2 linked regions of the Homo sapiens genome follow. The protein of the gene in region 2 purifies or fractionates together with the protein of the main gene of each other region. This does not show direct contact. Each region holds a gene or a part of one and is shown on either strand. Other genes may lie near its edges.

Region 1 (3,649 bases), on a different chromosome or scaffold from region 2:
AGGACGCTCTAAGCAGACCCAAGACCGAGGAGTTCACAGCAGCTTGAGGGGAAGAGTCTCACTCGGCCAAAGTGTTGGCCTTGTCTCTAAGCTTCTCCTAAGGGGAGGGAGGGGCCTCCATGCCCCCGGCGAGCCACAGCAGCCACCCCGACAGCATCCTCAGTCTCAGGTGGGGTTGGGGCTGGGGGCAGAACTGGGGTCAGGGATGCTCCACAGTGAGATGGGCTGGCCCAAAGCAGCGTCAAGAAATTACATGGCTCATAGTAGAGACCTTGAAGGGTGAGGGCCATCATGACTGTCATTTAGAAACCAGGCGGATTTTGAAAATGTCATCCTCAGTGCCTGCAGGGAGCACGCTAGTGCCACCTCTCTAGAGGGCTGTTCCGAGGGATGCTACTTATCCTTCAATCAGATAATCCTGTTGAAGGGTTTACCCTCAGAACTCTTCAGAGCTGAAGCCAAACATTCAGGCACACAGATGATAAGTGACACGCTTAATAACCACCAAAGCCAGACACACAAACTAATTGCCTAACAATCGAGGACTATGTAAGTTAAGAAATACACACAAGACGGAATAGTACGCAGCCACTAAAAGTATTCAGACAGAATTATGGCCTGGGGAAATGCCTTCAACAAATATTAAATAATTTGAAAAGTAGAATAAAAATTCTATATAAAACATCTCTATTGCATCAAACTATGTCTCTAGTAAAACAGGTAAACCGGGAAAGGAGCAAACCAAAGACAGCCGGAGATGCCTGGGTTCCAGCGCCAGCTGTGTGACCCCGAGCAACTCTCCAAATGTCTCTGAGCCTTGCTTTACTCCTCTGACAGATGGGAGCACCTGGGCCTGAGCAATCGGCAGCGTCCTGACAGAGAGGAGGGCTGTCAGTCATTTTTATTTGCTCCTTTGTGCTGATTTTTATAATAACCACGTAATGCTTTTAGAATAATGACTTTTAAAACACTAAGTACCTGGATCCCCATTGCTCTCCACCAATGTGGGGAGTGAGCAAGCCCCCTGGCTGGCCCCAGGAGCCACTTCGCCTGTACTTTATGCAAATCCTAGAAGCCGCGCCTCCCGCCCCGCCTGCCCGCCCACACTCACTCGGTGATCTCCTCTGTGACCGTGTGCTCCACCTGCAGGCGGGAGTTGACCTCGATGAAGTAGTGCTTGCCGTGCCTGTCCACCAGGAACTCCACGGTGCCTGCGTTCTCGTAGCCCACCTGTGGGGGCGGCCACGTGAGCAGGGGAGGGCACAGGCAGGGCCTGGGCAAACTCACTGGACTCAGGACAGGGATTCCGTCCCACCCATTGGGTTGGTTCCGTAAAAGAATGGCCTGTGGCAAACCCTGCCCCCACAGATGGCAGACAGACCCCAGGGCCCAGGTCATGCTCCTGCCTGGACACGTCCCCCAAGTAGTCCACTAGGCTCCAGGGTTCCCGGAGCCACAGATGGCTGCACCCAGCTTATCTGGGACGAGACATGGGCAGAAGCCCCCACCCATCCCAGGCTCGGCACCTTGCCCTGCTGCCTCCTGGGCTTGCCCGCCAAGGCTGTGTCATCCACCCAGACACGGAGACCCAGGCCTCTCCCAGCCGCTGCTTCTGCTTGGAGGTGTTTTCAGAAAGTCCCCTTCTAGTCTACTGCGCAGTCACCTCTGGCCACCACCACCCAAAGAAATTCATTTGAGAGGTACCAACAGATAATGACTCTAACTCAAATTTCAGCCCTAATTCCAGTTTCACTTTTGGTCTCACCAAAACGATAAACCAGACTGAATCACCTCCCTTAAACCTGTTCTGGAATGTGAAATAGTATAAGCCAGTAAATAAGACCTGACTTAAACGCGACCCTGGTCGATGCCTCGCATTAGCTGTGGCTGAGGCCTTGCTGCAGAGTGCACACCCCGGCCTTCGGCATGGGGAGGTGACGCATCCTCTGCTGCCTATAGGCCAGGGAAGAAGAGGGGGCAGGACCCCGCTGCACACCTGGCCACAGCAGGTGCTCTCCAGGCCAGTCCTGGGGCAGGTCACTGTGGGGAGATAGCTTGCCACCTCAGCCTCCTCCACAGCCCAGGACCCCCCGACCAGAGGTCCCAGAAAAGCAGAGATGGGCAGAGGGTGCAGAGCAAGGAAACAGATCATAATAAACATGATGTAGGAGACAGAAGCACATGAGGGAGGACTGCCTTCATAATGGTCCTCAATCTTGACAGAATCCACGGAATCTCATTCTCCTGATGACAGGGATGAGCTGATGCCACAGAGAAGCCAGGTCTGTGTAGCAGCAGGGCTGAGGAGGCGGCTGGGGCTCCTTCCCTCCCTCTTCTCAGCCATCCTGGACTCTAAGCTTGGCCTCTGGGCCAGGTGCCTCAACTGCACATGGGAAGGATGCCACAAACCCACTTCTGGCCCCCAGGAGAGTCCTTCACCCTCTTCTCCCCATCCCCAGTCCCCAGAAGGGGACTCAGGGTCCCCTTCCCCAACCAGCGCCCCACTGTGAGGCCTGCCGGCCTGTGAGCACAGGCTCCTGTCCCAACACGGGAAGCCCACCCTTCACCTGTTTAGCGAGTTTCACAGAGTCGCTGGTGAGCCGAGTCCGAAGCTGCGGGTCCAGGTGGGCGGCGGGGGCAATCTCGACCACCTTCTGGTGCCGCCGCTGGATGGAGCAGTCTCGCTCGTACAGGTGCAGGATGTTCCCATACTGGTCCCCTGGGGAGGGAGGTAAACTGGGCTTAGCTTTTACTGGAATCTACACGCCTCCTAAATGCCCCATCACCCCCACATAACCACTGTCGCCAGTCAGTGCCGGCTGCCAGCGGTACAGAGGCTGCCAGGAGAGACACCAGCATCACCAAGGCTGTGAGGACCAACTGCCAGCTCGGCCCCTAGAGCCCACTTTCCAGAGTCCTCTGGAAAAGCGCCCGACAGGCCCCAGGGCTGTCCCCAAGGCCAGCCACTGTGACGGCACCAGGACTGGGCCTCTCAGCTCCCGCCTCCAGCTGCCCCAGGCGGGGCGTCAGGACCACTCACCCAAGATCTGCACCTCGATGTGCCGTGGCTTCTCGATGAACTTCTCCACAAACAGCGCCCCATTCCCAAAGGCGGCCAGAGCCTCTGAGTAGGCCCGGGTGTAATTCTCCTCCAGCTCCTGCGAGGGCGGGCAGGGGCCAGCCAGACCTCAGACCCCACAGCGCTACCTCTCCCCTGCCATGAACCCCACCCACTTTCCAGATCCCTTGAGTGGTCCGCCCCTGCCCCCACGGCAGGCTGCCCTGCCCTGCTCCCAGCCCTGGGCATCTTCACTCACCTCGTAGCTGTGCACCACCCTCATGCCACGCCCTCCACCCCCATAGGCCGCCTTGAAGATGATGGGGAAGCCGTAGGTGTTGGAGAACTCGTGGGCCTCATGCAGGGACGTGATGGGGGCATCTGTGCCAGGGACAACGGGAACACCTGTTGGGAGAAAGGTGTGGGGGAGTCTCTGTAACAGGCGGGAATCCCTGCCACCCCTCCCTGCTGGACCCTCTCCAGGAGCTGCGGGGCCACCCCTTGCTTGCCCGTTATATTCACCCGCAGCAATGGCGATGGCCCGGGCCTCCACCTTGTCTCCCATCTTGCGGACCACTTCTGGGCTTGGCC
Region 2 (3,649 bases):
AAAGCCCACCTTCGATGACAGTGAGTCTCACTGAGCAAGCGGCCTCTCCGTACGCATTTACTGCTGTGCAGCGGTACAGATCCGTGTCCTCGCCTGTCAGCTTGTTGATCTGCAGAGAGGCCAAGGGCAGAGGAACAGGGCTACCACATCCCCTTCCTCCATTTACTAGACACGGCTATGTGTTGGGGGTATAAAGTGAGTAAGACATGGTCCTTGTCCTCATGGAGCTCACAGTCTTTATCAGGAAAGACAGACCCCAAAACAGAAACCTGGTTTGGGACAGAGGGTGGATGTATCAATTCTTTGCCATCAGAGGCAATGTAGCGAAGTAGAAAGAGTGTGCTTTTTGGGGTCAGATGGATCTGGGCCTGAAAACAGTCTCTGTCCTGTATTACTAGCTGTGGGACCTTGGGCAAGTTACCTAACTTCTCTCAACTTCAGTTTCTTCATTTGTAAGATGGGAATATAATACCTCAAAAAAGTGGTGAATAATTAGAATTAAATATATAATCTATGTCAAATATTTAGCCCCTGGGACATAGTAGGGCCTGGCACATAGTAGGTATCCCATGGTTAGTATTTATAATATTGCTCAGATTAGCCAAGATTGATTGAGTACTCACTATAGGCCAGGCACTAGCTAGACACTTTACATAAAACTTTCATCCTCATAACAACTCCTGGCCAGGCGCAGTGGCTCATGTCTGTAATCCCAGCACTTTGGGATGCCGAGGCGGATGGATCATTGTTGGTCAGGAGTTCAAGACTAGCCTGGCCAACATGGTGAAACCCCAACTCTACTAAAAATACAAAAATTAGTCGGGCGTGATGGCGCATGCCTGTAATCTCAGCTACTTGGGAGGCTGAAGCAGGAGAATCGCTTGAACCTGGGAGGTGGAGGTTGCAGAGAACCAAGATCACGCCATTGCACTCCAGCCTGGGCGACAGAGTGAGATCCATCTCAACAACAACTCATAACAACTCCTTAAAGTAGGTACTATTATTATCCCATTTTTACAAATGAGGAGACAGAGGTAAAAAGAGTAAAATGACTTTCTAAAGCCAAGGTGGTGGGCCTGGGATTGTAACTCCAGCAGTCTGACTTCAGAGCTTGAGCTCTTAAGCTCCAGTCTACACCACCTCCCAGGTTATCAGCAGAGGTATCTGCAAGCCTGCCAGATCCATTCTTGGCTCAGGCAACTTTGAGTCACGAGATGGAGTTGAATGGATTCAACCTCAACGAGGAGTATGTCTTACTCCTCTAGGGATTGGAGGCTGCCAAAGAGACCTTCAAGGGGATGGGAAAAGACGAGTAGACCCTGGTCAGGGGAAGAGCTACGGTTCTTACCTGCAGCACGTGCTCCTTGCTGCCAGGGCTGGAGGAGATCTTGTACTTGCTGGAATCACTGAGGTCACCTTTGGAGTTCTGCCAACGCACCTCGGGCCTGGGCTCCCCACAGACCACAGCCCGAAAGACAGCATTTTTCCCTGCAGCAGGAAGAGACGAGTAGGGAGACTGACAAGTTGGGAGAGGGTGACTGTATACTTTATTTAAATTTTAATTTATATCGTCTTCCTCATCTAGGTATTTCAACTGCCCCTTCCAAAAAGGATGCCAGGCCTTGGTCCCCTTGACTCAGGACTCAGAATACGCAGGTGGAAAGCAGCAGATTCCAGGCACCCAGAAGGCAGTGCTTCCTCTTTCTATATTGCAGAAGCTTGGGCTGCTTGAGGGAAAGAGACAGGTGGACTGGCCCTGGTGAAAGGGGAGGCCAGCAGGGCTTTAGGGGACAGGGGCTTTTCTTTGAGAGTGGGTGAGCAAGGAGTCTGAAGGCTCTGCCAAGACTAGGAAGGGAATGAGATTTTGTGAGTTCCGGGCAGGCGCAGGGGCTCACGCATGTAATCCCAGCACTTTGGGAGGCCAAGGCAGTCGTATCACCTGAGATCAGGAGTTCGAGACCAGCCTGGCCAACATGGTGAAACCCCATCTCTATTAAAAATACAAAAAGTAGCCAGGCTTGGTGGCATGTGCCTGTAATCCCAGCTACTTGGGAGGCTGAGGCAGGAGAATCACTTGAACCCCAGAGGCAGATGTTGTAGTGATCAGAGATTGCGCCACTGCACTCCAGCCTGGGCAACAGAGCGAGACTCCATCTCAAAAAAAGAAAAAAAAAAAAGAAGAGATTTTCTGGCTTCCCTTCCTACTCTCTAGGGGGAGGAGGAATCACAACTAGGAGAAGGAGTGACTATTTGGTGCCCGAAGGATCCGGTGCTGAGACACAGGCTTCAGCCTCAGAAAAGACCCCATGCTCCATGCCTGTCATGGAGGCCTGGGAACTGCCCGCCCTCAAGGAATCCCTCAGCCTCCCACCAGGAACATCTCAGTAGACAGCAATATAGACCAAAGGCCCAAGGGCCCTTCCCAATTTCTCATTACCTTGTTCCAGATTTAGAAAAATAAAATACCATTCTTTTTCTTATTACCAGGATGCTATGAACTAAAATTTATTGCAGGGTGTGTGTTGGGGAAAGAACACCAATTCCCACTTTTTCCCCAATAAGCCTTTGTTCCCACCACTTTCTTGGACACCTTCTTATGTGGCCTTCTAGAAGGGCCTTCCTGAGCCCAGCCTGTGAGCCACAGCAGGTGCTGCTGCCTGGAGGCGAGGATTGGGAAGAGTCAAATTAACTGTTTTAACAGTGCCTCTCTGCAGCAGTGGCTTTGAGGTGAGGAGACAGGGACCAGGAAACACCACAACCTCTCCCTGCTCCCCAGTTTAGCATTTTTCCATCCCTGCCCCCCAGATATTTCTCACACCAGAATAGCATGGTGTCTCTTCACTCTCTTTATCCACTCTTTTCCCCAGGCCTCTTGTCACTTCTAGGGTTCCAGGTAAGCACATACCCCCTCAAGGATAGGAGGGAGATGGGCTATGGCCTAGTGATGGATATAGGGCCTGGGTCCCCAGGAAGGTTGGTGCCCCAGCCCTCTCCCCTGGGAGGTAGGAGAGCAAGAATCTTGCCTCCCCTCCGCAGCTCCCCTCTGGGCTCACCCTCTGGCAGAGCCGAGGTGACGGGCTTCTGCTCAAAGTCCGGCGTGCTGCAGCCTTCAGGGATCTCCTCCACCAGCTGCCAGATGCTCACTCCAGGGATGTGGGACTTCCGGAGCTTTCCTGGAGAATGCAGGAGGGAAGGAGATGGGGCCTTCCACCTTCTTCCTCCTGGGTGGCCCTTCAACAGAATGGGCATCCACCCACTCACCCCAGGAGCAAGAAGCCCCTTCTCGCTCCTACTTTTGGGTCAGGATTATTTGTAGTACCTCCTGCCTGTGCACAGTGCTTTTGAATTCTCTAGTGGGAATCTGGTGGCACACACTCTGGCAGTGTGAATGGAGCCTCTAGGAAGTGGGTGGGGCACCCTAGGAAGACCCTGAGTGTGTCACTGGGGAAAAGCTGGGAAGAAAGAGTGAGAAAGGGCTCCTTCTCAGGAAGCCAAGAAGCAGGAGCTCGTGTGGGGGCTTTGCACTCCTTACTCAGGAAAACAAATCAAAACCCAAAGCCAAGACTCAAAAAAAAAGCCAAGCACGGTGGCTTACGCCAGTAATCCCAGCACTTTCGGAGGCCGAGGTGGGCAGATCACCTGAGGTCAG

The links. The genes of interacting proteins can lie anywhere in the genome.
Region 1: the proteins of IGFN1 (region 2) and PC purify together in Homo sapiens (affinity purification with mass spectrometry; one large-scale study listed by BioGRID and IntAct). This does not show direct contact.

What each region holds. Positions count from the first base shown.
Region 1 is NC_000011.10:66,867,735-66,871,383, forward strand, and holds part of PC (pyruvate carboxylase, mitochondrial precursor), read right to left. Parts: coding exon 3,581-3,649; intron 3,464-3,580; coding exon 3,318-3,463; intron 3,159-3,317; coding exon 3,041-3,158; intron 2,720-3,040; coding exon 2,568-2,719; intron 1,231-2,567; coding exon 1,112-1,230; intron 1-1,111. UniProt on the Homo sapiens protein: Pyruvate carboxylase catalyzes a 2-step reaction, involving the ATP-dependent carboxylation of the covalently attached biotin in the first step and the transfer of the carboxyl group to pyruvate in the second.
Region 2 is NC_000001.11:201,193,678-201,197,326, reverse strand, and holds part of IGFN1 (immunoglobulin-like and fibronectin type III domain-containing protein 1), read right to left. Parts: intron 3,174-3,649; coding exon 3,054-3,173; intron 1,489-3,053; coding exon 1,349-1,488; intron 110-1,348; coding exon 10-109; intron 1-9.